Homo sapiens: one gene and its partners. The protein of the gene in region 1 interacts with the protein of each later gene in a biochemical or structural test. Each region holds a gene or a part of one and is shown in the gene's direction. Other genes may lie near its edges.

The links.
Region 2: of the proteins of SRPK1 (region 1) and RSRC2, one has a biochemical effect on the other in vitro, tested with the Homo sapiens proteins (one large-scale study listed by BioGRID and IntAct).
Region 3: of the proteins of SRPK1 (region 1) and NUDT21, one has a biochemical effect on the other in vitro, tested with the Homo sapiens proteins (one large-scale study listed by BioGRID and IntAct).
Region 4: of the proteins of SRPK1 (region 1) and FKBP3, one has a biochemical effect on the other in vitro, tested with the Homo sapiens proteins (one large-scale study listed by BioGRID and IntAct).
Region 5: of the proteins of SRPK1 (region 1) and PDGFRA, one has a biochemical effect on the other in vitro, tested with the Homo sapiens proteins (one large-scale study listed by BioGRID and IntAct).
Region 6: of the proteins of SRPK1 (region 1) and VDR, one has a biochemical effect on the other in vitro, tested with the Homo sapiens proteins (one large-scale study listed by BioGRID and IntAct).
Region 7: of the proteins of SRPK1 (region 1) and PELI2, one has a biochemical effect on the other in vitro, tested with the Homo sapiens proteins (one large-scale study listed by BioGRID and IntAct).

Annotation. Positions count from the first base shown.
Region 1 is NC_000006.12:35,913,690-35,918,098, reverse strand, and holds part of SRPK1 (SRSF protein kinase 1), read left to right. Parts: intron 1-4,409. UniProt on the Homo sapiens protein: Serine/arginine-rich protein-specific kinase which specifically phosphorylates its substrates at serine residues located in regions rich in arginine/serine dipeptides, known as RS domains and is involved in the phosphorylation of SR splicing factors and the regulation of splicing.
Region 2 is NC_000012.12:122,506,049-122,510,448, reverse strand, and holds part of RSRC2 (arginine/serine-rich coiled-coil protein 2), read left to right. Parts: intron 1-1,998; coding exon of another isoform or gene 1,999-2,001; coding exon 2,002-2,231; intron 2,232-3,525; coding exon 3,526-3,615; intron 3,616-4,400.
Region 3 is NC_000016.10:56,448,533-56,452,772, reverse strand, and holds the start of NUDT21 (cleavage and polyadenylation specificity factor subunit 5), read left to right. Parts: upstream 1-1,440; 5' UTR 1,441-1,570; coding exon 1,571-1,686; intron 1,687-4,240. Other genes in the region: prolyl 3-hydroxylase OGFOD1, read right to left, coding at 1,007-1,160. UniProt on the Homo sapiens protein: Component of the cleavage factor Im (CFIm) complex that functions as an activator of the pre-mRNA 3'-end cleavage and polyadenylation processing required for the maturation of pre-mRNA into functional mRNAs.
Region 4 is NC_000014.9:45,123,925-45,128,333, reverse strand, and holds part of FKBP3 (peptidyl-prolyl cis-trans isomerase FKBP3), read left to right. Parts: intron 1-4,409. UniProt on the Homo sapiens protein: FK506- and rapamycin-binding proteins (FKBPs) constitute a family of receptors for the two immunosuppressants which inhibit T-cell proliferation by arresting two distinct cytoplasmic signal transmission pathways. PPIases accelerate the folding of proteins.
Region 5 is NC_000004.12:54,266,820-54,271,228, forward strand, and holds part of PDGFRA (platelet-derived growth factor receptor alpha isoform 1 precursor), read left to right. Parts: intron 1-469; coding exon 470-641; intron 642-732; coding exon 733-922; intron 923-3,813; coding exon 3,814-3,929; intron 3,930-4,409. UniProt on the Homo sapiens protein: Tyrosine-protein kinase that acts as a cell-surface receptor for PDGFA, PDGFB and PDGFC and plays an essential role in the regulation of embryonic development, cell proliferation, survival and chemotaxis.
Region 6 is NC_000012.12:47,856,087-47,860,495, reverse strand, and holds part of VDR (vitamin D3 receptor), read left to right. Parts: intron 1-2,807; coding exon 2,808-2,992; intron 2,993-3,246; coding exon 3,247-3,367; intron 3,368-4,409.
Region 7 is NC_000014.9:56,298,763-56,302,478, forward strand, and holds the end of PELI2 (E3 ubiquitin-protein ligase pellino homolog 2), read left to right. Parts: 3' UTR 1-2,762; downstream 2,763-3,716. UniProt on the Homo sapiens protein: E3 ubiquitin ligase catalyzing the covalent attachment of ubiquitin moieties onto substrate proteins. Involved in the TLR and IL-1 signaling pathways via interaction with the complex containing IRAK kinases and TRAF6.

The DNA of each region.
Region 1 (4,409 bases):
CAAGCCTCAACTAAGGTAACTTGACTCTGTTCCATGACTTCTGACTGCACTCCTGATGACTTCCATTTACTTTGCTAAGGCAAGCTGCTAGTTACAGGAGGTGAGTCAGGAAGAAGATTTGAGGAAGAAGCATGCCATAGAGTTTGGTCTTTGGAGATAGATGTGGTTTTGAATTCTGATTTTGCTACTTTTTAGCAATCTGACCTTAGACAAGTTAGTTAAGGAAACAGTCTTATGTATATATCCTGACTGGCAGTTCAGTCATAGTGAAAACTGATCAGGACCTAAAGATATAAAAACAAAGCGTTTAAATGAAAATTTTAGAAAGTTTTGGAACTGTTACAGTAAATAGCATCCTTAGTAATTTAGTCGTGTTGTGTCACAGGCAGAAGGGATTTTCAGTCCCCTGGTACTGCAGATCTTAAACCCAGGGTCTTGAAGCTGGTGACAGAAGAACCAAAACTTGGAATTCAGGGTCCCTTTCCAGCTCTGTGTTTGTTAGAGTGGATTTCCTTTGGGTTCTTTTCACTGTGCTGGAGTATTTGACTTTGGGATTTTAAATTTTCTTATTTAGACAATTCTTCATTTTACTTTTGTGGACGCTGTGCTTTTATTTACTAACATTAACTAGTTGGTGATGATCTCCATTTTACTTTACAGATAAGAGAATTGAGGTTTGTCAGATTACTCCCCTAGAAAATTGCAAAGCTGGGATTTGAACCCAGGTCTGACATACCCAAAGCCCTGGCTACCAATCATGTGTTTCTAAGTGACAGTGCTTTTGGTGTGTCTTACAACAGGTAAGGTAGAAGCTGAGTTGAAAGAGGCTTCTGAATGAGAGACCTCTGGATGCTTGGGGGTTTGGGTGCCCTTTCATGACATACTGTCCTGTGTCTATGAAACAGCACAATCATCTATCTCCCTCTGAACATTTGTTTTCAGTGTTTATACCAATAGCTGTGAGCCTTTATTTGTTTGTCATAAGCTTTTATAATTTAACAGTGTGTGTCTGTTTTTGTTTTGTTTTGTTTTGTTTTTTGAGACAGAGTCTCACTCTGTCACCCGGGCTGGAGTGCAGTGGCGCATTCTCAGCTCACTGCAACCTCTGCCTCCCGGGCTCAAGCCATTCTCCTGCCTCAGCCTCCCAAGTAGCTGAGATTACAAGCACCTGCCACCACGCCCGGCTAATTTTTGTATTTTTCGGGGTAGAGACAGGGTTTCACCATGTTGGCCAGGCTGGTCTCAAACTCGACCTCGAGTGATCCACCTGCCTTGGCCTCTCATAGTGCTGGTATTACAGGTGTGAGCTACCGTGCCTGACCTATATGTCTGTTTTTGAAGTTGTTTCTATGGAACATAATTCCAGAATGGATTTCATACTTACTGATTTTATTACTTACCTTAGGAAGCTGGTTTGGACAGTAATTTTCACTTTATTTGCAGTTAAATAATTATGGATTTAGTATACATTTGGTAGTAAAATTAATTCAGCTCTAACACTGATTTGTGGAGTCATTTGGGAGATATATTGAAAATTTACTTGAATTTGGCCACAAATTAAAAAAAAAATTTACAAGAGAAAATACTTAAATATCTAACATTTTTATTCAGTAGGAAGTAGAGCCAGTAAATTTGAAACAATTTAAAAAATGAAATAGTATTTGATGCTTTTTACACTTAGCAGTGCACCTTGGAAATTGGTTCTATATTCCATATAGTGCAGCCTTACTATTTTTTTTAGGGTCTGCCTTTTTCACTGAGTCTTAGAAATAGTTCCATGTCAGGACAGAAAGAGAACCTCATCTAGCATTCCATTAAGTTGATATGCCATAATTTAATTAATTAATTAATTAATTTATTTATTTATTTATTTGAGGCAGAGTCTTCGCTCTTGTCATCCAGTCTGGAGTGCAGTGGTGAGATCTCAGCTCACTGCAACCTCAGCCTCCTGGGTTCAAGCGATTCTCCTGTCTCAGTTTCTCGAGTAGCTGGGATTACAGGCACATACCACTGTGTCCAGCCAACCATAATTTATTTTAATTTTTATTAATAAACGTGTGTGTGTGTGTGTGTGTGTGTGTGTGTGTGTGTGTGTGTGTGTATATATTTTTTTTTTTTTTTGTTTTTGAGACAGAGTCTCGTTCTGTCGCCCAGGCTGGAGTTCAGTGGTGCAATCTCGGCTCTCTGCAACCTCCGCCTCCTGGGTTCAAGTGATTCTCCTGCCTCAGCCTCCAGAGTAGCTGGGACTACAGGTGTGTGCCACCACGCCCCACTAATTTTTTGTATTTTTAGTAGAGACGGGATTTCACCGTGTTAGCCAGAATGGTCTCCATCTCCTGACCTCATGATCCGCCCACCTCGGCCTCCCAAAGTGCTAGGCTTACAGGCGTGAGCCACCGCACCTGGCCTGTATATACCTTTAAAGACAAAAATGGAATCACTGGGCATACTTTTCCCTAGTTAACATTATCATGAGTATTTTTCGTGTATTAAATATTCCACTATGGGCTGTTTCCAGTTTTTCACAATTAATTCACAGCTATAGTGAATAATCTTTTGGACAAATCATTGCTTACATCAGTGATTATTTCCTTAGGATAAATACTTCGAATGGTATATACATTTAAAATATTTTTAGTTCATTTTGTCAAAATTTTGTCCAGCAAGATTTTTCTTTTTTTTTTTTTTTTTTGAGACGGTGTCTTGCTCTGTCGTCCAGGCTGGAGTGCAGTGGCGTGATCTCGGCTCACTGCAAGCTCCCCCTCCCGGGTTCATGCCATTCTCCTGCCTCAGCCTCCCGAGTAGCCGGGACTACAGGCGCCCGCCACCATGCCTGGCTAATTTTGTTTTTGCATTTTTAGTAGAGACGAGGTTTAACTGTGTTAGCCGAGATGGTCTCGATCTCCTGACGTCGCGTTCTGCCCGCCTCAGCCTCCCAAAGTGCCAGGATTACAGATGTAAGCCGCCATACCCGGCCTTCCTCCAGCAAGATTTAACAGGTTTGGCCGGGCACAGTGGCTCAAGCCTGTAATCCTGGCACTTTGGGAGGCTGAGGCAGGGGGATCACTTGAGGTCAGGAGTTCAAGACCAGCCTGGTCAATACAGTGAAACCCTGCTTCTGGAAATACAAAAATTAGCCAGGTGTGGTGGCAGGTGCCTGTAATCCCAGCCACACAGGAGGCTGAGGCAGGAGAATCGCTTGAACCCGGGAGGTGGAGATTGTAGTGAGCCAACATCGTACCACTGCACTCTAGCCTGGGCAACAAAGCAAAGTTCCGTTTCAAAAAAAAAAAAGGATTTAACTAGTTTAACTCTTATTCATTAAACAAATAGTTTTTGATCTCCCACCCTGTCCCAAGCATTGTTTTCCATATTCGGGATTCAGCAGTGAAAGAAAAACATTCCTGTCCCGTTGGCTACTATATTATTATAGTGGGAGGAAAGACAGAATAAACAATAGACATAAATAAGTAAATTAAATAGTATATTAGGTGATAGGTGGAGAAAAAAGAGAAAGATAAGTGGGGGTTGAGAAATGGAGATAAGGTTACAGTTTTAAATAGGGTGATGGAGGCCACACTGAAAAGGTGACATTTGAACAAAGACTTGGAAGAGGACTGCTCTAGGCAAAGCAGTGGAAATGGGAGTGTTCTTGTATCTCCTGTGAAGCCACCAGAACTAGGTAATATTACTTGAAAAATCTTGCCAAATCTGGTAATCTATAAAATACCTTGTTGTAATTTTGAATTTTTTGCCCATTTTTAATATTAGATTGTTGATCTTTTTCTTGATCTTAAGAACTCTTTATTAAGAATGTATCCTAGCCAGGTCTGGTGACTCAAGCCTGTAATCCCAGCACTTTGGGAGGCTGAGGCGTGTGGATCACCCAAGGTCGGGAGTTCGAGACCAGCCTGATCAACATGGAGAAACCCCTTCTCTACTAAAAATACAAAAAATTAGCCGGGCGTCATGGTGCATGCCTGTAATCCCAGCTACTTGGGAGGCTGAGGCAGGAGAATTGCTTGAACCTGGGAGGTGGAGGTTGCAGTGAGCCGAGATCGTGCCATTGCACTCCAGCCTGGGCGACAAGAGCAAAACTCCATCTCAAAAAAAAAAAAAAAAAAAAAAAGAGAAAGTATCCTTTGTTGTGCGGCAGACTTTTATTTCTCAGCTTGTTATAGGTCCTTCAGATGTCACTTATAGTGTGCTTTTTACATAAATTGATTTTTAAAACCGTGGCAAATTTGTCTTTTCCTCTGCTTTTTCTTTTTTCTCTCTCTTTTATTTTTTTTTCTTTTTTTGAGATGGAATCTCGCTCTGTCACCCAGACTGGAGTACAGTGGCATGATCTTGGCTCACTGCAACTTCCGCCTCCTGGGTTCAAGCAATTCTCCTGCCTCAGGCTCCCG
Region 2 (4,400 bases), on another chromosome or scaffold:
TAAGCGATTCTCCGCCTCAGCCTCCCCTGTAGCTGGGACTACAGGTGTGCACCACCACATCTAGCTAATTTTTGTATTTTTAGTAGAGACGGGGTTTCACCGTGTTGAACCAGGATGGTGTCGATCTCTTGACCTGGTGATCGTCCTTCTTGGCCTCCCGAAGTGCTGGGATTACAGGCATGAGCCACCACGCCCGGCCCCAGATGTCTTTTACGATTTTGGAAATGTAGTTTATGCAAGAAAGTGAACTGATCTGAAATATGTATTTCTCTTTCAAGAAATCAAGTTTTTATGCGTAACAAACATTGCAGATTTCAAAAATTATCAGGCCTGGCTCAGTGACTCACTTCTGTAATCCCAGCACTTTGGGAGGCCAAGGCAGGTGGGTCACCTGAGGTCAGTAGTTCAAGACCAGCCTGGCCAACATGGCAAAACCCCATCTCTGCTAAAAATACAAAAATTAGCCAGGCGTGGTTGTGTGTGCCTATAGTCCCAGCTACTCAGGAGGCTTGAACTCGGGAGGTAGAGGTTGCAGTGAGCCAACATCACGCCATTGCACTCTAGCCTGGGTGACAGAGTGAGACCCTGTCTCACGAAAAAGAAAAAAACAAAAACAAAAAACAAAAAATTATCACGAAGAGCTTACTGTTGATTTGGTATGAAATTTAATCTGGAAGATGGTTTTTTGTTGTTTTTTACATTTTTGGTAAACAGTGGCACTTATTTGAAACTCTAAAAGTTTACAAATAGCCATTTTATTTTTACTACATCATTACTCTCTTTGGTAACTCTGGTTCCCATAATGTTGGTAATTTAAGTACTTTTTAAGGTTATATTCTGGACTGACAAAAATAGGTAATCAGAGGTGTCTTTTTTTACAGAGGACTGCTCAATCACAGTGGAAATACCAGGGCTTTATTGAACTTGGACTTAGCATAATACCTGCATACTGTTGTTGTTTTTGGGTTTTTTTTTGTTTTTGTTTTTGTTTTTTTTTTTGAGACGGAGGCTCATACTGTCGCCTGTGCTGGAGTACAGTGGCACAATCCTGACTCACAACAACCTCCACCTCTCGGGTTCAAGTGATTCTCCTGCCTCAGCCTCCTGAGTACCTGGGCTTATAGGCGCCTGCCACCACGCCTGGCTAATTTTTTTGTAGTTTTTATTTGAGACGGGGTTTCACTATGTTGGCCAGGCTGGTCTCGAACTCCTGACCTTGTGATCCGCCTGTCTTGGCCTCCTAAAGTGCTGGGATTACAGACGTGAGCCACTGCGCCCAGCCTTAGCTGCATACTGTTTTTCAAGTATATGATGTGAGCATCAAATGAAATGTCCATGAGAACATTTCATAAATTTAAAAAAATACAAGGTTTTATTGTTTTGTAATTATACCTTAGAAACACTATAGTTCATCTCCACTGAAATCATACTTTCTTACTATTTGCAGAATTCTCTATCCTCAAAGTAAATAAATGGGTTTTTTTTTTGTTTTGATACGGAGTTTCGCTCTTGTTGCCCAGGCTGGAGTGCAGTGGCATGATCTCGACTCACTGCAACCTTCGCCTTTTGGGTTCAAGTGATTCTCCTGCGTCAGCCTCCCGAGTAGCTGAGATTACGGGCATGTACCACCACGCCCGGCTAATTTTGTATTTTTGGTAGAGACGGGGTTTCTCCATGTTGGTCAGGCTGGTCTCGAACTCCCAACCTCAGGTGATCCGCCCACCTCAGCCTCCCAAAGTGCTGGGATTACAGGCGTGAGCCACTGCGCCTTGCAATAAATGGTTTATATATCAAGGGTTTATGTAGAAATATGTCCGTTGATGAACACAATAAATGTTTGCTAAAAACTTGTGAGCTAATACTCAGTCATTTCCTTGGATTTGGTGAAAATCCTGCCTTTTTGCACATTCATAGCTTTTTATAAATCGTTCGTTAATGTAAATCAGGAGGTTTATGTTTTAAAATCGTTTTAAAATCCATTTTTGTATTCTCTTCAAGCAGCTGCAGCTACTGGAGGTTCTGTTCTCAATGTTGCTGCCCTGTTGGCATCAGGAACACAAGTAACACCTCAGATAGCCATGGCAGCTCAGATGGCAGCCCTGCAAGCTAAAGCTTTGGCAGAGACAGGAATAGCTGTTCCTAGCTACTATAACCCAGCCGCTGTTAATCCAATGAAATTTGCTGAACAAGAGAAAAAAAGGAAAATGCTTTGGCAGGGCAAGAAAGAAGGGGTAAGTTCTCTTATTCTGCTTTTCTGTCGTTTATTCCTAATTAGTAATTGCTTAGAAAAACAAATTTGGGTTGAAAAATATTACTTTCGGCTTAACTTTGTAAGAACCTGGGGTGGCCAGACGCGGGTGGCTTATGCCTTTAATCCCAGCACTTTGGGATGCCAAGTGAGCGGATCAGTTGAGGTAAGGAGTCCAAGACCAGCCTGGCCAACATGGCAAAACCCTGTCTCTACTGAAAAGAAGATAAAAATCAGCTGGGTGTGGTGGCACACACCTGTAATCCCAGGTGCTTGGGAGGCTGAGGCAGGAGAATCGCTTGAGCCTGGGATGCAGAGCCTACATACAGTGAGCCAAGATCATGCCACTTAGCCAGGCATGGTGGTGGGCACCTGTAATCCCAGCTACTTGGGAGGCTGAAACAGGAGAATCACTTGATCCTGGGAGGCGGAGGTTGCAGTGAGTTTCCAGCGAAACTCCATCTGGAAAAAAAAAAAAAAAATCACGCCACTGCACTTCAGCCTGGGTGAGACCCTGTCTCAAAAAACTTATAATAAGCTATGATAGTCTTATTTGCCAGTTATTAATACTAAAATAAAACATAATTGATTGAAGTCAAGCTTTCAAAGAAAACTAATATTACCATAGAAGTAGTAAGGAAAAGAGGCTACTTGGTTTAGAATTTTTCATAGATTATGAGGTACTTTTTTTTTTTTGACATTATTTGCAATGACAAATGACATTAAATGCAAATGACATGCAGTCGCAAAAATTGCATGTTGAAAAAGGTCTATGACAGGAAAATAATCCATTTTTTTATTTTATTTTTATTATTTTTGAGACAGAGTCTTGCTCTTGTCACCCAGGCTGGAATGCAGTGGTGTGATCTCAGCTCACTGCAACCTCTGCCTCCCAGGTTCAAGCAATTCTCCTGCCTCAGACTCCTGAGACCCTCCTGGGTCTACAGGTGCCCACCACCATGCCAGGCTAGTTTTTTGTATTTTTAGTAGAGACGGGGTTTCACCTAGTCATCCAGGCTAGTCTCGATCCCCTGACCTCAGGTGATTTGCCCACCTCGGCCTTCCAAAGTGCTGGGATTATAGGAGTGAAGCACGGCGCCAACCTCTTGCTTGTATTTCTTTGCTTTGTGGTTTCTTAAGTCTTGAAATAATTAAACTTACATTGATTGAATGCTATCCATGGTGTTTTTTTTTTTAATTTAGACATTGTTGAGAGATTTCATGTCCTAAAAAATATTTAAATTTTACATATTTTAAAGTTCAGTGTTTGTTAACAGGACAAATCCCAATCTGCTGAAATATGGGAAAAATTGAATTTTGGAAACAAGGACCAAAATGTCAAATTTAGGAAATTGATGGGTATTAAGGTGAGTTTCACATGTGCCAGGGGATCTTTGTATTAGCTATTAGCCCTCCTGCACTGTTCTTCCCTCATTTTCTTAGTTCTGGTCTTTACTCAGGTGTCAGCGTTTTTGAGTTCTTTCCCACCACCTTTTGTGAAATAACAAGCAATCCCATTCTGAAACATTTCCATCTCCCCTACCCACTGTCCTCCCTACACACACACTTGGAGAGAGAGAGAGAGACGGGGTTTTGCTCTGCTTGCTCTGTCACTTGGGCTGGAGTACAGTGGTGCAGTCATACCTCACTGCAGCCTTAAACTTCGAGGCTCAAGCAGTCCTTCCACCTCGGCCTCTCAAAGCCCTGGATCACAGTTCTGAGCCACTGCGCCCAGCCTCCATCCCCATTTTCTACTTTACTTTCCTCTGTGGCATTTATACCCTGACATCTTCTACATATTATGTTTTTTCCAACCTACTAAACTGAAGTTAACTTTTGTTACACCCTGCTATATTCCAGACCTAGAAAGAACATTGCCTTGTCCTTTGGAGGTGTTCAATAATGAATGGAAATTAAGTTATTGAGATCAAATACATATCCCAAAAGTATATTTTTGTTTGTTTGTTTTTTGTTTTTAGTATAGACGGGGTTTCACCATGTTGGCCAGGCTAGTCTCGAAATCCTGACCTCAGGTGATCCACCCGTCTCAGCCTCCCAAAGTGCTGGGATTACAGGCGTGAGCCACACTGCACCCGGCCAAAAGTATAATTTAATAGTGTCAGCCTAGTTCACACCTGTAATCCCAACACTT
Region 3 (4,240 bases), on another chromosome or scaffold:
CCAACATTTACCCACTGCTTCCGGCTGGCTAGATCACCATCCTGTAATCATCAGCACCACCTACCAGGTGCCAGGCCCATGATCTCATTCAATCTTTTTAACAGCTCTGAGGGAGACATTATCACTCTCCCCATTCTACAGATGAAGAAACTGAGAGTACAGAGCCTGCACTTAAACACTAAGCTATCGTTTTCTATAGGCATCCAGCCTACCCAGGACTCACCTCTTCAAAGCACTTGACAACGGAAAGAAAAATTACGGCAAACTCTAGAAGGGGATGCCTGGCGCATGAAGCAGAGCTCTGAACACCTAAGGTGATATTTAAAGCTGAGGCTGGAATCGTTCAACGTAGGCGCCTTTCCTTGGTCAAAGCGCGTTTATTTTCATACATCATGGAGTCAAACTACAGGCGCGTAGAGACGAGTACACTAGGGAGTCAAGCTGGCAGCTCACGACAAATGCCCTGGCTAGACTCTCCTGGGACAGCTGAGCAATGCCCTTGCAGGAGAAATGACATCAGCCACTCCTGTATTTGTCCACATGTGTATTGGGCCTTACTCAGGGAAACATTTACTGAAGCCTGCAAGCATTAGTGTGTCGCTCCCATTCACCGACTTTCCGAGGTAAATATTATGAACTATCCCATTTTACTTAGGAAGCAACTGAAGTTTAATAAGGTTAATTCCATTGCCTGGCGACGCCCAATCAGGGGAGAGGATTCTAACTCAGTAATCTTTGACTCCAGAATGCAACTATCTCTTGCATACCCTCTGCTTCCCAAAACTCTCCGGCCTCCATTTCTCCCTCTTCTCACGTTTCTAAATTGCAACCGAATTTGGAGTGAAAGGGAGCAGCAGCCGAGGCAGGAGAGTAGGAGGTGGCCAAAGTCCTCTAAGAGCCTCTTCCCTTGCGGCCCCGCTGCCCAAGGCTGGGCGCGAGTCCCAGGGCTTTTTCAGAGATCCCTAGACCTCTGCGTGGCGGCCCCTCCCTGAGAGCACCCGGTTACCGTGACTGAACGGCGTCCTGCGGCTCCAGGCCTCAGCCACCTGCTTTTTCAAGGTTTCTTCCGTAACAGCGTCCGAAAACTCCGCCATCACCTCCTTCTTTCCCTTTTTTCCCACCCGGGCTGGGCCGGGCTCCGCTGGCCGCTTCCCATTCATCTCTTCCCAAGGCACAGAACCACGCCACGCAGATCAAGACGCTACCTTCCTGAGGGTACTGCAACTCCCGGCATGTCCCCTTTATCGTGTTTCCCGGCCCTACCCAATGGGAAGCACCAAAGTAAGAGAAGGCGGAACCTATACCCGGTTTACCAATGGGAGCTCCAGCTATTGCAGCCATCCCACCAGCAATTGGCCCACTGGAGCTCGGTCTGGCAGGCCACCGCCCCTCTACTTCCTGCCGCCAGAGGCTCCGGGTTCACTTCCGGCGTGCCTACGCCTCCTCTTGCGCTGTCCTGTTAATGGCGGGCAGTAGCCGCTGAGGGGATTGCAGATAACCGCTTCCCGCACGGGGAAAGTCTACCCTGCCTGCCACTTTCTGCTCGCCGTCAGCGCCGGAGCTCGCCAGCATGTCTGTGGTACCGCCCAATCGCTCGCAGACCGGCTGGCCCCGGGGGGTCACTCAGTTCGGCAACAAGTACATCCAGCAGACGAAGCCCCTCACCCTGGAGCGCACCATCAACCTGTAAGTGCGGCGCGGCCTTGGCGGGCATTTCTCTCGTGAAAGCTCCTATAGACTCTCCGACGCGCCCCCGGCTTTTCGGCGCGCTTCACGCCTCTGCACCTCCCCGCCTCCAACTCCCGCTGGCGGATGCGCGCCTTCCTCCCTCTCTCAGGCCCCTTTCTCATCCTCCAGCCTCCAGGGTTAGAGTCCTTTTCTGAAAGGAAGGCTTGTTCCCATCCTATGTATTCGGTCATAATGGGGAAAAACGGAGTTTGCTTTTAACTCATCCTTTCCCCACCTCTCCAGAGGTAACCGACTTCAAAATGTGTGTTTTTTTAATCCTTCCAGTGAATTGTTTATGCTTTCGCATCACGTACATGGTATTGCTTTGTGAGTGTTGATGTGATACGAATGGTATAACCTAGTATCATTTTTGCAGATTTCACTCTGACAGTAAGGTTTCGAGATCTAGCTGTAATGCCTAGGTCTAGTTTTCTTCCTTTTAGGTGCCACTTAATACTTCAGTTTTTGAATACAACACATTTTATTCATGTGCTCAGGGCTGTCTGCCCTGCCCCATGCCTTATGCCTTCGCGTCGTCTGATGTCTCAATGCCGGCATCCCAGGCACCACAAGTAGGCCCCTCCTTGGGAGTAAGGATGCTGCTATGGTTGGGCTTTCAGACTGGAGGGAACCAGAATGTTTGTACCAGAAAACCCATTGTGGGCTGTGTTTTATTTTCAACACCTTTCTGTTTCAACACTTCAAACCATTGCATTTCAAGGTCATTCTCAGAAGCAGACTCGCTGTAGCAGGTAATTGGCGTTTGGGGTGTCTTAATCAAGAAATTGTCAGTAATGCTTTTTAAAATCGTTTCTGAGGATTTGTTTTCGAGGCAACGCGGTGCCTCCATTTTATGCCAGGATGGAGGAAAGTGGCCAGTTTATGCCAGTCAGGGTACAAGTGCAAGGATTTGGTGGTATTGATGTTTTCGTAAGGCAGTTTAGGTGTTTCTCTGTTTCATATTAAAATAAACGGACATTGTCTCCCCGTCCCCCAACCAAAAGTGATTTGAAGTTGAAAAGATGGTTAACATTGTTTTATTTTGCAAAACGTGTTGGCTTGGAAATTTAGATAATGGAAATGCTGGGTTTATAAAATCTGGAATTAGTTGATAGTTGTGTGTATAAAAGTTCTCAGGAGTGGCGGCTCACGACTGTACTCCCAGCACCTTGGGAGGCTGAGGTGGGAGGATCACTTGAGGCCAGGAGTTGGAGATCAGTCTGGGCAACATAGGCTGTCTCTACAAAAATTTTTTTAAAAATTAAGAAAAAATCCATCAAATGGTAAAGGCAAATGTTATCCTTTTTAAAAGTGTGAAAGCACAGCTTCTGGATTACTTTCGGTGGTTATTAGAACTAAAACCCACAGTCTTTTCTTGTTTTGTCTTGATTACTGAATTAATTTGCATCCAACCATTTTGTAGAATTGGCAAAATAGTTAGCTTTCAGTAAGATATTTTAATCTTCGCTCTATTAAAATTATGGGTTGATTTACAGTACATTTCCTCTCCTGTGTAAATACAAATATTCAGAAATAATAATTGTGTTGTGAACTTAAGTTCACCTGAGTTAACATTAAGTTGAAAACAAATGCCCTCTCCCCCAGTATATTTTATTTTAGGAAATATTGCATGAATGCCTACTTTGTACCAGGCACTGTGCACAATACTGGATATACAGTGGTGAGGAAGTAAGGTGTAGCCCCTGCTTTATGAAGCTCACAGTATGATGAGAACAATATGTATGTCTGGGCTGGCACTCTGATTTCACAGGTGAAAATTCTGACATTTCATCTTCACATCTCCTTACTGATATATTGGAGCTGGCTCTTGCAACAGAGATGTGTAATGGCTATCCTTAATTCTTTCTAACTCAGGTTGTCAGAATTAAATGTTAATATATGTAAAGCGTTTTAAAAAATTGCTTGGCACGTCGTTCTATGTAGCATATCTGCTGCTGCTATGGATGATGGTTTTAGATTTAGCATTGGATCTACCGGGGATGTTCTTTAAATTTTTAAAGCATCCTGGAATGGTATATTTTAATTATTTTAGAGCTTTTTCATATGCCTAGAACTTGGCTTCTGGAATTAAAGTAATTTTTAAAGTTTTGGCAACCTTGATTTTTTCCCCTTTCAAGAATGGCTGAGTGGGGTAGATACAATAATGTTGACTATTAATGTCAAGGGCTTTTGGTAGAATAGATACCTTGGATGGGCAAATGTGGCCTAAATTCGTACTCAAAGGCTTCTTGCTGTAAGGCTTTAATTAAGGGCTTACAACATATAAGTATGGATTTTTTAACTATCTTTAAAGAAAAATTTGATCCTTATTAGGCAAGATGAAAACTGTCTTTAACAGTTTGAGCCATATTTTAAATTATTGGTAAAGGAAGAGAGTTTTCGATTAGATATGGTGGGTAGAAGATTCAGATGAGGAGAAGGAAACAATAAGGAGACTGAATAGAATAAATGCCAAAGGCTAGTAAATAGGTTTAGAGGACAAAAAGAGAAA
Region 4 (4,409 bases), on another chromosome or scaffold:
TCTTTGAGACAAAGTCTCACCCAGGCTGGAGTGCAGTGGTGCCATCTTGGTTCACAGCAACCTCCCCCTCCTGGGTTCAAGTGATTCTCCTGCCTCAGCCTCCCCAGTAGCTGGGACTCCAGGCAGGCGCCACCATGCCCAGCTGATTTTTGTATTTTTAATAGAGACGCAGTTTCTCCATGTTGGCTGGGCTGGTCTTGAACTCCTGACCTCAAGTTATCCGCCCACCTAGGCCTTCCAAAGTGTTGGGATTACAGGCGTGAGCCACTGCCCCTGGACTCCCTTCTCATTATATGCTCCTGTGTTCTGTAGTGCCAAAATGTGAATGTCTAGCCATTGCCATTCCCTTCTTCTGAGCTTAAAATTTCTCTGAATCTTTGCGTCCCTTTTTCTTTCTCATGTCTCCTTCAGGACTAATGCTCTCAAACATCTTCCTTTTATTTTAAACGTTCATTCCTTTTCCATTTTCAAGCATTCGAAGCAAGGCCTCATACCCAGAATGTTAAAAACGTTGTTCATTTCTTGCCTCCCTTCTCTTTCTTTATCCAGTCAGCAACAAAATGGGTATTCTAATAAGATTTCTAAAACAATACTTTGCAAACCACACCCTGCTGAAAAATCTTCAGTAATTGAGTGTTGTCTAGAATTGCCCCGTTCAGTATGGTAGTTACTAACAATATGTGGCTACAGAGTGCTTTAGCTACTTTGAACTGAAATGTGCTTTAAGAATAAAATATATACTCAGTTTCAAAGGTGTAATTTAGACGTTTCTTTTTTAAAAAAGAATGTAAAATATCTCAGTATTTTTTATATTGATTACTTATTGAAATGATGGTATTTGGGATGTTTTAGTTTAAATAAGAAAATTTTTCATTTAAAAATTTTTTATTTTATTTTTTTAAGACAGGGTCGGTTGGGAGGCCAGGCATGGTGGCTCATGCCTGTAATCCCAGCACTTTGGGAGGCCGAGGCAGGCGGATCACCTGAGGTTGGGAGTTCGAGACCAGCCTGGCCAACATGGTTAAACCCTGTCTCTACTAAAAATACAAAAAATTAGCCAGATGTGGTGGTGCACACCTGTAATCCCAGCTACTCGGAAGGTTGAGGTGGGAGAATCGCCTGAACCCCAGAGGCGGAGGTTGCAGTGAGCTGAGATCGCACCATTGTACTCCAGCCTGGGCAACAAGAGTGAAACTCTGTCTCAAAAAAAAAAAAAAAGACAGGGTCAGTCAGGTACAGTGGCTGGTGCCTGTAATCCCAGCACTTTGGGAGGCCAAGAGGAGCAGATCACTTGAGGTCAGGAGTTTGAGACCAACATGGTGAAACCCCGTCTCTACTAAAAATACAAAAATTAGCTGGGCATGGTGGCATGCATCTGTAATTCCAGCCACATGGGAGACTGAGGCAGGAGAATCACTTGAACCCAGGAGGCAGAGGTTGCAGGGAGCCAAGATTGCGCCACTGCACTCCAGCCTGGGCAATAGAAGGAGACTCAGTCTCAAAAAAAAGAAAAAAAGAGACAGGGTCATGCTGTGTTGCCCAGGCTGGACTCAAACTCGTGGGCTCCAGTGATCCTCCTGCCTCAGAATACTCAGAATAACTGGGACTACAGGCATACCACTGCCTGGCATAGACATACTTCATCTCTTTCTTTTTACATTTTTAAGTGCAGCTATTAGACAACTCAAAATTACATTTGTGACTCCCATTTTTATTGGTCACCACTGGTCTTCAATATATATCCAAATTTCTTATTCTTGGCATTCAAAACTTCCAAAATGTGGCTGCTGCTAAGCTCCATATTCCATGTTTCTATAGACGTATTCTTTTTTTTTCTTTGTTTTTTGAGACGGGGTCACGCTCTGTTGCCTAGGCTGGAATGCAGTGGTGTGATCTCGGCTCACTGCAACCTCCGCCTCCCGGGTTCAAGCAGTTCTCCTGCCTTAGCCTCCTGAGTAGCTGGGATTACAGGCGCACACCACAACGCCCGGTTAATTTTTGTATTTTTAGTAGAGACAGGGTTTCACCATGTTGGTCAGGCTATTGTCGAATTCCTGACCTCGTGATCCACCCACCTCGGCCTCCCAAAGTGCTGGGATTACAGGCGTGAGCCACTGTGCCCGGCCTGTATAGACATGTTATTGGCCAGGTGCAGTGGCTCACGCCTATTATCCCAGCACTTTGGGAGGCCAAGGAAGGTGGATCACTTGAGCCCAGGAGTTCAAGACCAGCCTGGGCAACATGGCGAAACCTGTCTCTACCAAAAAAGTAGCCAGGCGTGGTGGTGTGTGCCTGTAGTCCCAACTACTCAGGAGGCTGAGCAGGGAGGATCCTTTGAGCCTGGGAGCCAGAGATTGTAGTGAGACAAGATTGTGTGCCACTGCACTGCCTAGGTGGCAGAGTAAGACCTTGTCTCAAAAAAAAAAAAAATTTTTTTTCTTTGACCACAAATGTCTGCTCATTGTCTACTACATCATGCCCTTTCCTACCTCCATATTTTATTTCTTCCTTAGAGTGTCCTTTTACTATCCCTATTTGTCACTTCTGTGCTCCCTTTAAGACCCAGCTCCTGGGCTCATTGCTTCCTCTGGAATTTTTACCATGTGAGACTTTGCTGTATACATACACAACTGCATACATTCCTAAGCACATTTGTATTATTTATTTCTACCTTTATTTTAATATAAAGACTTGTCTAATAGCTCTTATGGGATTTTAAATCAGTCATTGTCAATATATTTATTGTCTATTATATATTAAATAGCATTGAGGAAAATTTTCATGGTATGAATGAGTATTGTACAGGAAAGAAAATATAAGTTACGACAGAAACTCACACTTAGCAATTAGAAGTCAGTATAAAAGTACTCAAACGAAAAATTTGATAACTTCATCTTTGATAACTGCTTCATATGTAGTTATTACCAACTTCTGGTGATTCTGCCTCCAAAATATATCCCAAAGCCATTCATGTTTTGTCATCCTCACTGTTAGCACCCTGGTCTAAACCTAAACTACTATAGTAACTTTTTTCCTAACAAGTCTCTCCACTTCTACTTTTGCTTCCCAAGTCATTTTTTATATTTCAGTCACAGTGATCTATTTAAAACACAAATCTGGCTGGGCACTGTGGCTCACGCCTGTAATCCCAACACTTTGGGAGGCTGAAGCAGGCAGATCACCTGAGGTCAGGAATTCGAGACCAGCCTGGCCAACATGTGAAACTCCACCTGCACTAAAAATACAAAAATTAGCCAAGTGTGGTGGTTCATGCCTGTAGTCCCAGCTGCTGGGGAGGCTGAGGCAGGAGAATTGCTTGAACTCGGGAAACAGAGGTTGCAGTGAGCCGAGATCACACCACTGCACTCCAGCCTGGGCAACAGAGTGAGACTCGGTCTCAGAAATAAATAAATAAAATAAACACAGATCCGATTCTGTAACTTCTCTTATTTAAAACTCTAAATTGGCTAATGTCCTAAAGATAAAAACCCAGATTCTAACATGTCCTACGTATTTTTCTAGCCGTATTTCATGCCATTCTCCCTTTCATTGCTCCCTTACAGACAGTAATATTTTTATACTTTTGAAATATTATTAAGCAGGCACAGTGGCTCCTGCCTGTAATCCAGCACTTTGGGAGACTGAGGCAGGTGGACTGCTAGAGCCTATAAGTGAGCCGTGATCACACTACTGTAAAATATCTCAGTATTTTACAGTGGTATGATCACTCCAGCCTCAGCAACACTGAAACCCTGTCTCTTAAAAAAAGAAAAAAAAATATATATATATAATTTTTTTTTTAAGACAGAGTTTTACTCTTGTCACCCAGGCTGGAATTCAGTGGCACAATTTTGGCTCACTGCAACCTCTGCCTCCTGGATTCAAGTGATTCTCCTGCTTCAGCCCCCTAAATAGCTGGGATTTCAGGCGCCTGCCACCATGCCCAGCTAATTTTTGTATTTTTAGTAGAGATGAGGGTTTCACCATGTTGGCCAGGTTGGTCCCGAACTCCTGACCTCAGGTGATCAACCCTTCTGGGCCTCCCAAAGTGCTGGGTTTACAGGTGTGAGTAACTGCGCCCAGCTGATTGAAAGATTTCTATGCTGTATGCACCTGCTCTACTGAGAAGGTCATGGAAAAGACAAGAGTTCAAAGGCTGATAGAATTCTGGAACTTCAGGGAGGGATAGATTAAGATCCTGCATGGTTTAGGCCTTTGGACACAAAACTATAAGCAGTAATTGTTAATATCACTCTAGCAGTTGAGTAGAGGACTGACTCAAGGTGTCAGAGATAAACACAATCGGACATTAAAGTGGTGAAAACAGATTTTATTCAGCCTACTGACAGTAGGGGAAAGAGCTAAACTCCAGTCTGATTTGTGGAGGGGTAACTGGGCCTTTTAAAAGA
Region 5 (4,409 bases), on another chromosome or scaffold:
AAATTTTTAAAAATTAGCCAGGTGTGGTGGCATGAGCCTGTAGCCCCAGCTACTCAGGAGACTGAGGTGGGAGGATCACTTGAACCCAGGAGGTTGGGGCTGCAGTGAGCCATGATTGTGCCACTGCACTCCAGCCTGGGCAGCAGAGTGAGATTCTGTCTCTAAAAAAATTAAAAACAAAATAAAAAATCTCATGATTTTCTAAGCAGCTAGCTTTTATTCTTTAGGTTTTATCTTTTAGAGCAGTTTTAGGTTTACAGCAAAATTGAGAGGTACAGAGATTTCCCATGTGTTCCCTACACCCACACATGTGTAGCCTCCCACCTTGTCAACATCCCTACCATCCATTTGTTATAACTGCTGAACCTCCATTGACACATCCATATCATCCAGAGTCCATAGTTTATCTTAGAGTTCACTCCTAGGAGCGAGCTTTTTAAAAGTCGGTTTTCTTCCCCTTTTGCTGTAGAAAGGCAAAGGCATCACAATGCTGGAAGAAATCAAAGTCCCATCCATCAAATTGGTGTACACTTTGACGGTCCCCGAGGCCACGGTGAAAGACAGTGGAGATTACGAATGTGCTGCCCGCCAGGCTACCAGGGAGGTCAAAGAAATGAAGAAAGTCACTATTTCTGTCCATGGTACATTCCGCTTTCTAAAATGTCAGTTGTCCATGCTGCTCGGGATCCATATGTGGTAATCATTATTTAATGGAAACTCTTCCCTGTACAGAGAAAGGTTTCATTGAAATCAAACCCACCTTCAGCCAGTTGGAAGCTGTCAACCTGCATGAAGTCAAACATTTTGTTGTAGAGGTGCGGGCCTACCCACCTCCCAGGATATCCTGGCTGAAAAACAATCTGACTCTGATTGAAAATCTCACTGAGATCACCACTGATGTGGAAAAGATTCAGGAAATAAGGTAAAGAAACTCTCTGCCCAAGTATGCCTTTTTTTAGTGTGCATCAGAGGCGGACTGAGGTTTGTGTGTGTCTTACAACCCAGACCCAAAGTCAGTCTAGAAAATGTAACAATCTGAGTTAAGAGATGCTTGAAATCACATCCCTTTAATGATAACATTGCAAAGTGGTATTAGTATGCTGGTAAGTATTTAATGAGAAGATGAGAAGAAAGAACTAAAAGCTCTGGCCCCTGGGGAAAGACAGGTCACTGGATTCAGCTAGGGTGGAAGAAAGGAAGTAAAATTGGACTCACCAGGATTGAATAGATTGAATATATTCCCTGATGTTCATCATCCATATCGCAAGTAGACAGATATGGTGATTACACCCATGAGGCAGTTATCACATCACCTTACGTGAAAGTTAACGTCATAGGCTTAATCTGGAACCCATTTGCCCTAATTGAGGACTCCACAGGAAAGAAGAGTAGAGCCTGGCTAATCAGGAGAGAGATGTGCAGTGAGTTGCTTGGATCCCTACCTTTTAATCAGAATGGTAGATTGCTCTCATCTCTTAATTGGTGGTGGAGTTTTGAATGAGTCACCCCTCAGCCACAGTTTCCTCATCTACAATGTAGGATAAACAATACCTTATGTCCTTCAAGGCAAGGAATTGGATCAGATGATATCATGAGGCCTCTTAAGGTTTTAAGCTGTGATTAGAACCCAAGAGTCAGAAGATACATCTCACAGCACCCAGCTAACCAGCCCTATACTTTTGTCAGAAATCATCTCAGAAAGACAAAGTCAGTCCTGTATTTCAAGCCTTCAGGAGGAAGAACAGAGCCTTTCTCATCAGTTCCATTCACCTCAGGATTTGCTTTCTTCTTTGTGAACTAAATTCCACGTGTAATTGAGAAGCAATGTCTGAGAAAATGGAATTTTACAGCCTCTATAGAATAGTAAAGGAAAAATGAAGTGGGATACTGAATCTGGAAGGCTTTCTGTTGACACAAAATGAAGGTGTACAACAAGGAGGGCAGCTTTCCACGAGGAACTTCCATGAGGCTGTGCAGCCAGAGAGGAATAGGGTAACAACCCTGGTACAGCTAACACCTCCAACACGTGTGTGAGCACTGTCTGCAAGCCATAATCCATAGCAGTGGCAGGACAGGCTCGCCAACTGAGTGGTTCTGGAAAGCTGCCTTTTCCTTTTAGTGATTCAAGGATGCTTCAACGTGGATTTTTTAGTTCCTGTTATGAGCCAGTGAATACAAAGATGAACATGGTAGATGGGGGATCTGGCTTCCTGGAGCTTAAAACTCCAGGATGGGGGATCTGGCTTTCCTGGAGCAAGAAAACCAGTGGTTTTCTTGGCCGAAGAAGTGAAGAGAACAAACAGCAGAGGATAATTTGGTAATCAGCATCCTAGTGTGCCCCAGGGTACTCTCTTAAGGAAATCCAGTCCTGGAGCACACCCAGTATGGTCCAGCCTGCTGTCTTCGTAGGTCTGAGTGCCCCAGTATTTGCAAAGTGTTTTGGAGCCTATGAAATGCTTTCACACATACAATCTCCTTTAATTAACTCTCACAATGACTCTGTGCTATGTGTACAATTATCACGTTTTACACACAAGGAAACTGAGGCATGGAGCATTGTAATAATACCCGAGATCTTCTCACTCCATGACCAATGCTTTTCTTCTCCATTCCAGTTGCTTTTTCAACTGTGATGATTTATAAAGGACAATCAAATGGGCACATACTATATTTATGCACATACATACACACACACACACACACACACACACACACAACCAGATGTCATTTATAATCCATGTAAAATATTTTTGGGGAAGTTTCTCTTTAATAAAGTTTGAAGAGACATATATTTTTTTTTTTTGAAGAGGCATATTTTTTCTAACTTTTTTTTTTTTTTTTGAGATGGAGTCTTGCTCTGTCACCCAGGCTGGAGTGCAGCGGTACGATCACGGCTCACTGCAACCTCCGCCTCCTGGGTTCAAGCGATTCTTCAGCTTCAGCCTCCTGAGTAGCTGGGATTACAGGCATGTGCCACCATGCCTGGCTAATTTTTTTTTTTTTGTATTTTTAGTAGAGATGGGGGTTTCACCATGTTTGTGAGGCTGGTCTCGAACTCCTGACCTCAAGTGATTCACCTACCTTGGCCTCCCAAAGTGCTGGGATTACAGGTGTGAGTCATCACACCCAGCCTATAACTTTTTTTTAATAGGTGATAGAATCCCGTGCTTGAAAAATAATCAAACAAAAAGAGAATGCATTGTAAGAAGCCTCACTGTACTCCTGTCCCCAGCTGCCCAGTTCTCCCCTCCTCCCCACAGGGAAACATCTTCATTAGTTTCATTAGGTTCTTATGAAACCTTCCAGAGTTTCTTTAAGCAAAATACAAGCAAGTAGGACTGTCATATCCTGCAGACCGCTACATACAAATACATAGAAAGTGTCCTCATTCTATCCTCCAGTGATATTCCATTTTTTGGCTGAACCACCTAAATGATGGATATTTAGGGGAAGCAAGTATTTTTTAAAAAAGGTAAAAATCAAAGGTTTTTATTTTTTATTTTTTTAAAGAAAAGTTGGTAGGCTGTGTTTATTCATTCAGAAGTCAGGCCGTGGCTGAACTGATAGCTCTTGGAGATGGCCATTGCTCATCTCTGAATGTCTGGTTTTCTCTTGTAAGAATTGTGTGTATGATCCAGACCTTCAGTGTGTGCACTATATATTGAGAATTCCAGAAGAGATGATATGGACAAGAAAAAAAGATGACTTTACTTTTTACAGTAAAAATAAAACTTAAATTGAAGAGTACAATTGTTTAAACAATTGGAACTTACTTAGCTACTGCTTGTTGAAACAAAATCCTTTTTTTAAAAGGTATCGAAGCAAATTAAAGCTGATCCGTGCTAAGGAAGAAGACAGTGGCCATTATACTATTGTAGCTCAAAATGAAGATGCTGTGAAGAGCTATACTTTTGAACTGTTAACTCAAGGTATGTAAAGGGAGTATAAAGATAATGCTAGCTCTGTAGATGAGTGTCTTCCAAGGAAAGCCTGGCACTTTTCTCCCCGGTCATGGAAGAAAAGCAGCACTTAGGGGAGAAGCAGTGTCTGCATATGTCACATATCGGGAATACCTCTGCTGGACTCATGAATTCAGGTATTTCTGGGAGGTTCTGGGTTACTCTAGAGTAGGCGAGGAATCCCTAGGCTCCACCAGCTAGCTTTATTTTTGTAGAGATGGAGTCTTGCCATGTTGCTCAGGCTGGTCTCCTGGGTTCAAGCTATCTTCCCACCTTGGCCTCTCAAAGTACTGGGATTACAGGTGTGAGCCACTGCACCTGGCCTCCACCAGCTTACTTAGCACCTGCTTCTCAATCTGAGAAGAGAGAAGCAGATGACCTTAGATTGTTCTGGAGAGTTTTGCTACAAGTTTTCCTTATAGACATTGTACAGTGGTCCTTACCAGAAGG
Region 6 (4,409 bases), on another chromosome or scaffold:
AGCTTTCTCAGCTCTCTGGTGTGCCAGGTGCCATTCACTACATTGCAGGAGACAAGCAGCACTAGAGTACTCACTAGCCTTTCCTGAACCAGGAAAATGATTTGCACACAGTTGGTGTAATCTGTGTGGATGCATTTGATATTTGGTGTCAGACTATTGAGCAGACACCACGGCCAGGTAGCCCCTCCGGTCTAGCCTTTATGGGGGAAATATAAGAATTGTAAGACAAAGGCCGGGCATGGTAGCTCACGCCTGTAATCCCAGCACTTTGGGAGGCCAAGGCGGGCAGATCACCTGAGGTCAGGAGTTTGAGACCAGCCTGGCCAACATGGTGAAACCCCATCTCTACTAAAAATACAAAAAAATTGGCCAGGCATGGTGGCATGTGCCTATAAGCCCAGGTACTCTGTAGCCTGAGGCAGGAGAATCGCTTAGAACCCGGGAGGTGGAGGTTGCAGTGAGCCGAGGTGGTGCCACTGCACTCCAGCCTGGATAATAGAGCGAGAGTCTGTGAAAGAAAGAAAGAAAGAAAGAAAGAAAGAAAGAAAGAAAGAAAGAAAGAAAGAAAGAAAAAGAAAGAAGGAAGGAAGGAAGGAAGGAAGGAAGGAAGGAAGGAAGGAAGGAAGGAAAGAAGGAAGGAAGGAAGGAAGGAAGGGAAAGGAAGGGAGAGAAAAGAAAGAATTGTAAGACATGGACCCTGCCCTTAAGTAACTTGTAATCTAGAGAAAGAGACCTTGAACTTCTTGGGCTCCGTCTATAGGTAATGAATTGAAAACTGTGCTAACCATGAGTCTTACAGAGCAGAAGATAATTGGGTGTCAATGTGTGTGGGAAAGACTAAATATGTAGCAGGCATAGGAAATGAGGCTCAGCAGAAAAAAACAAGGCTTGATGCAGATCAGGGCAATCAAGAAATGCTTCATGGAAAAAGATGGCTATGATGTAGGCACTGAAGAACTGGTAGAACTCATACAGGTTTGGGGGAGAGAAAACCCAGCTGGACGGGCACCTAGCACAACTGGAAATGCAGGGGCGAGCATGAGCAGGTCATGTTCCCAGGCCAGCAGCAATGCCAGCATGCCCAGAACAGAGGCTGTGTCCAGAAGCACTAAGACATGAAGTCTGAAAGTTAGGAAGAGGCCAACTTTAGTTTGGACGTGGTCATCAGTAGGGGCCGAGAAAAGTATCTGGGCAGGAGAATGGCATCACAGAATCACTGGAAAGTTAGCAAAGTCCAGTCAGGCTGAGCTACGTGCCTGTAGACACCATGGTGTGGCTGGCAGAAACAGGTCTCCCTAACTCTGGTCCCCAGGTGAGCAGGAAAGACAAGACACCTAATCTTGGGCTCCCCAAGCGAGGGCTTACCCCCATTGCCTTCCCTGGATGCTCCCTGCCCCTTCCTCTCCCACCCTGCCTGACCTGGTAGGGTCTGTGCAGACACCCACTGTGGGAGGAGAGTTGGCAGCTGTTTGGGCAGGTGAGTCAGTCACCTGGGTGTGGTCTACTCCCAGGCTCCCTGTGGAGGGAAGCACCATCTCTTGCAGTAGCGCTCGCTTTCCTGCCATGCCTGTGGCATTGGCTGTCCACTCCCTCCCAGCATAGGCTCTTCCTCACCCCACAGCAACTTCTCTCGTCCTCCCCCTACCTGAGGGCCTGGGCCAATGGACCTTTCTCAAAGCCTGGAACTCACCCACCCTGGGCTTCTGGTTCCTTTCTCTGCTCTTGTGAAACTCCCCAGTTCTGTGGGCAGATGCCCTGGCAGCAGCAGCACCAAGCAAGTAGCTACAGGCCAAAGGCCCTGGTGCCCACTCCTGCCGTCAGCACTCAGCAAGCCACAGCCAGGAGGTCTGTTTGCCCAGCCGCCGTGCCAGGCACCTTTGCTCCCAGCATCCCCTCCACCCCCACAGCTGCCCCAGCACAGGGAGGCAGGCAGAAGCCTGCAGGTGGTGGTGGGGCTCTCTATGGCCCCACACCCTGATTAGTGGCTGGAGAGAACTTCTAAGATTAGAGCTGCAAGGCCTCACCCTTTGGGGCCTTCAAGAGGACTTGAAAACTTCCATGGACAGAAATGTCAAGGCTGTACATGCTGGAGGAGGGGTGGTTTTGCAGAGAACCAAAGAGGTCTAGTCTTTCTATATTCCACAGTCCCATGTCTGGAAACCTGGATGTGGAGACAGCCACATAGAGGAGTCCTCTCCACATCTCACTTCCAGCGCTATGAGAGCTCTGGCATCCTCTCTTCACCCTGATATCTTCTTCAGGATCATGGAACATCAGGGTAGGGAAGAGAAGAGAACTAACATTTAGTGAGCATCTGCTCTGGGCCAGGCATGCATCCAGTTCTCAAATCAGTTGATCCTTTGAGGCAGGTATTATTACTTCCCCCACCTGCATGTCAACACACACAGACACACACACACACACTTTATGGAGGAAGGTACAAGAAAGGAACCTTGGAAGAACTTACATGGTCCAAATCTCTCATTTTACAAACAAAAGAACAAAAGCCCAGAGAGTTTGCCCAAGGTCCCACAACTTGTTCTTGAGAACCCCGACTCCCTAAAGCCCAGATCATCCCCCCTCTCAAATCCTCTTTTTCTTCTTCTTGCATGTGCCTTCCTTTTCACCATAGCAAACCCAATTTTTCTTCACACAGTGGAGTGGGAGTCTCCGTGGCAGGAGGACCCCCGAGGGAGCCCCGAGTGTTAAAGCCCCTCCTATCTTGGACCTTTACCCCCAACCGCAGGAGGAAGGTTTCCTGGAGGAGCTGCTGGCCAGCCCTCCTGACTCCCCTTCCCACCCCACAGTCATTCTGACAGATGAGGAAGTGCAGAGGAAGCGGGAGATGATCCTGAAGCGGAAGGAGGAGGAGGCCTTGAAGGACAGTCTGCGGCCCAAGCTGTCTGAGGAGCAGCAGCGCATCATTGCCATACTGCTGGACGCCCACCATAAGACCTACGACCCCACCTACTCCGACTTCTGCCAGTTCCGGGTATGTCTGCCTGCTGGGAGGATGAGCCGGTCCAGAGGAGAAGCACTAGTGGAGCCAGGGCCCAGGGAGTAGGGACAGAGGGCAGGGGACATCCTGAACAGAACTGGGGTAGGGACGGAGGCTGCTCTGCCCCTGGCACTGGGAGGCTTCGCCTTCCTGTAGACCTTCCTCAAAGCCATTCCTATCAGAGATCAGGGCCAAGGTAGGAAGGCAACCCCAAAATGTGGGTCTGAGACCCCATCTTTCCCTTCCAGCCTCCAGTTCGTGTGAATGATGGTGGAGGGAGCCATCCTTCCAGGCCCAACTCCAGACACACTCCCAGCTTCTCTGGGGACTCCTCCTCCTCCTGCTCAGATCACTGTATCACCTCTTCAGGTAAGCAGGACTTCAGTCCTCCATAGAGTAAGGGAGCGGGGGCGAGGAGTCCACCGCACCTGCCCTGGGGCTGCTGGATGGAAGGAGGTGGAAGGCTCCCTAATGGAAACTTACATAAATACTGTGCGCTATGCAGCGTCTTCACAACAGCCCCTCTGTTACAGAAAGGGGTGACTTACCCAAGGGCCCACACTGGGGAAGAGGCCAAGCTGGGATTCCAGCTGTGTAGCATCAGCCTCCCGGGCCCATGCTGTTTCCTCTAAGCCAGGCTTCAGCCCATGGCCCCCTCCGTGGAGGTGACCTGCTTCCTTTACGTGATATTTTAATCCTGGGCCCTTCAGAAGGTGAAATTTGGAGTGGGAAGGTGAACGTGTTGGTCCTATTGAGGTCCACCTTCCACTTGAGCTCTGGGGACCACTCTGGCCCTGGAGGACCTGTCCCCTCCAGCTCAGCTGAGAGTCTGGGAGGCATCATGCTTTCCTTCCTTTCTTTTTTTTTTTTTTTTTAAAAAAAACACATATGTATATTTAGAAAAGAAATTGTGCTGTATACAATCTGATGACTTGCTTTTTTTTATATGGCATTGTTTTTCCATACCAGTTAGTACGCATCCAGAATATAATTTTTAAGGGCTGCATAGTATTCTGGAATACAATAATGTACCTAATCCCCTACCATTGGATATCTGGATTATTTCTCAGCATTTTAATAAGAAAACAGTATACTTGTAGCCAAATATTTACACTTATCGGAAATTTTCCCTTACAATGAATTCCAGGAAGTGTGACTACTGGTCAAAGAGTACACACAATTATTTGACTAATGTCAAATAGCTTTCTAGAGTACCTTCAGTAATGTGCACCTCCTTTAGCACCCCAGCCCTCATAGGCATTGCCTAATTTCCTGCATCTTTATAAATACTGGCATCAATATTTAAACATTTTTGTTTCTGGTTTGTAGGTGAAAATTATAGATGTTCTACACTGCAGTTCTTTGACCATTAGCAAGGTTGAACATTTTTTTCCATGACTTGATGGGTCCC
Region 7 (3,716 bases), on another chromosome or scaffold:
TAAAGTTCAGCCTCTCAGTTTTAATATAGCTTTATTTTTCAGTGGAGATCATTGTTTAGGATGAGACATTTTTGGTTTTGGTTTTGTTTGGGTAAATTTTAAATGGTGTGAAAATCGATGACAACAGTCCTCTTACAGATAGCTTGCTGTATTCTGTATAGCTTACTCTACCTGCAGACAGAAAATGAAAGAAAAAAATGGACTTGCCTAGAATAATATATTGAATGCCTTTTGATTTAGCCAGAGTCTCTGATGATTAGCTTTCACTGATAGAGTATGTCTTTTCAGCCTGTAATTCTTTGGGCCCCAAAGAATGACAAAGGAGGCACTCGTTCTCTTTTCTTGCTGTATGCCTAGAAAGTGGTTGAAGGATTCTTGATGCCCTAAAACCATCTTGTAAGCTAAATGGTCTTGCATCCAGAAAGGCCAGATTTTACCTACCAAGAAAAAAAGATATTTTTCCAGAGAGTTAGGTATATCATAATTTTCCATTTCAAGTCCTGTTTATAAGTCTAGTCATTCTGCAACGTGACATATCCCCCAAAATGAAGTTACCTTCCAAGTTGGACACGTCCCGTAGTTGGGCATATGTCTAACTAAAAGTTTCTGACTTTTAGTAAATTCAGCTTAAATATAAGTTGAAATTTGGGAAATAATTTCCAAGCTCTTGGAAGGGGTAACAGTGAACCGCCCTCCATGGGCTCCACATCTTTTCCTTTGGCTTCCAAAGTCAGGTCCCGCCCACCCTGCCTAAGGAACTGCAGAGAGGTGGCAAATCAGCAAAAAGGACACCAGGCTCTTCTTGGCCACTTGTAGGAAGATCCCTTTACAATTTTGACTAAGGAGATTTTTTTTTTCACAGTTGAGTTAGTTTGTGAAAATAAAGAACTCTGTAGCTCACCAAGGTGGAGAAACGCAATTCAGAAAAGTAATTTCTCCAAGGTCACTTCTTTTTTTATGTCTTGCCATCACTTTAAAGGACTAGCCCCACTCCCCCATGTGTATACACAAGGAAATTGCAGACCAATTAGTTGTCTTGGCCTGACTCTAATGCCTTTTGCAAGTAGCTTTCCAGAAGTAAAAGTCCCAGTGATGTATTCCCATAGAAATATTTTTCAGTTGTTTATGTCGTTTACTACAAAAAAAAAGATTCAGAGTGGATGGAGTACAACTCTGAGTATTTTTCTAGTCCGGAATTTTTTATTAATAATCGGTGCTGCCGGGTCATGCATGCTGCAACTCTCAACATTTCCCTTATTTGGTTCAGCTTTTAGCAAAAAGGGCTACAGTTCACCCTGCAGAGTATTAAGGTTTCTGGATTTTTTTCTCCCAACTGTGGCCCAAAAGAATTAAAATCTGTTAATATAAATAGAGAACATATTTATCATTCCTCGATAGTTAATTATAGACTTTGGTACCTTTGTGCCTCAGGGAAGCCACGTGATATAACTGGTTATAGAATTTCAGGGTTAGGGTTTAAAGAAAGGAGAAAGCCATTGGAAAAATGATGGGCTCCATTAAGGAGACTAATGAATCTGGATGCAGAAATATGTCAGAAACTGGCATAAACATGATTGTAGTAGAATTTATTTTCCAGTACCAATAGGGAAATTATTTTAAGTTATTACATTTACTGTATTGGGAAACTTGAGGAGAACTCTTTAGTTCATAAAGCTTCAATGTCTTTTTTTTTTTTTTCATGGAAAAACTCAAACCTCTGTTATTTGGGAGCTCAGTATTGTGTGGACACTTACGAGAGTTTTCTGCTTAATTGAAGTGTAATATAGGTTGTAGAATTGTTACCTGCAGTTCTATGGTTTTGTTTCACTTCTTTTCTTTTTTAAAGCCATTCTGTTCTTTGGATGTGCTTGAAAGGGTGTGTGATTACACCATTGTTAATGCTGGGTAAAAACTATCTTCTTGCAGCCTTGCCTCATAACAGTGGAATTTCTGATAGACAAACCACAGGACTTTGATTTTAAGCCAAATCCATCTCCATCCCTTTACTGTCAATCTTCTGTCCCAGTAGTTTAGCCTTTGTGGCTTAGGTTATGATGCGCCTCCTTCTGTGCGACCAATGAGACGACTTCAGCATCTTTTTAAAATAATCTAAGCATCATTGAAGCAGTAACACAAAAAAAAGGTTCAGTATTTTCTTTTTAGTATAACTTACATCCTTTCAAATAAGTCTTTGCCCTCATGAAGAATCCCTAGAGGAAGATAAGGAAAATAAGTATTTTCCAGTTTTGCTTGACAGTTTCTAAACAAACAAAAATAAACTCAATGAAAGGAAAGATGTTTCTTTTTAGCTGAGATGACAGATTGCTTCTCTGTATTAAATAGTCTAGAAGTTAAGGGGATGGTCACATTTACCATGTATTGTGTTATTAGCAGTTAAATTTTATGAATATGTTTGTAAAATTGTTGTTTTATATTTCATGTCAAATTGAAAAGTTTATTTCTTCACTATTGTACCTGTGGAAATACAAGCCATTTTACAGGAAAAAATCTTCAAAAACTATTAAATGGATATCAGCCTGTTTGTGAGCCATTGTCTTCAGATTCTGTGGTTGTCACTGAGTTCATTAGGACATTTAGTAGGTTGATACGAGTAGAACTGATTTTTTTCACTTCTCTAACTTCCAAGTTAATCTCCAGCTGTTGAGTTTATTAATTGTTTTATATTCTGCACAATACATATTTAAACCTTGATTCTGAAAATCCCCTACATTTTTTAATTAAAGAAATTTCCTTGGTGCCTATATTACTATTTCTCGTGACATTACATCACTGTCAAATAAAGTTAACTTCCAGGGGAATTTAACCTGACTTGTAGAATTAATGGATTTTTGTCATGATCATTTCAGCCATATTGCTGCTCTTGTGACAGTCTTCATTCACTTTTAACAACATAATAAGGATTGTGTATAAGCCTTCAAGCCTTCCTTGAAGCCTTAAACTAATATATCTATCATAAGAAAATGTATATATTTATGACAAATTTTGTTCTCATCACATTGATATTCAAAGAGTTTTAGTATTATTGAGAGAAACAGATTTTTCATTTCCAGAAAAAAAATGCACATTTATATAGGCTTTTATTTCAGGGGATAAGTGTTCCATACTTTGTCAAATCTAAGATGCCACGAATTGTGAGATGTGTTATAGAAAATCACAACTGGTTATAATTGTAAGTTACATTCCATTGGGCAAGGAATACACCTCACACAGCATACAAACATTAAATCAAAATGGGTCAAAGAGCTACAACTATAGAACTCTTAGAAGAAAACATAATGTAAACCTTTGAAAACATAATGTAAACCTTTGTAACCTTAGATTTGTCAGTGATTTTTGACATACCAAACGTAAAAACACAAGCAACAAAAGAAAAAAGGCCAGGCACAATGGCTCACGCTTGTAATCCCAGCACTTTGGGAGGCCGAAGCAGGCAGATCACTTGAGGTCAGGAGTTCAAGACCAGCCTGGCCAGCATGGTGAAACCCCGTCTCTGCTAAAAATACAAAAATTGGGCGTGGTGATGGGCGCCTGTAATTCCAGCTGCTTGGGAAGCTGAGGCTGGAGAATCGCTTGAACCTTGGAGGCAGAGGTTGCAGTGAGCCGAGACCGCACCATGCACTCCAGCATGGGCGACGAGCGAAACTCCGTCTCAAGAAAAAAATAGAAAAAATATATAACATTGGGTTTCATCAAAA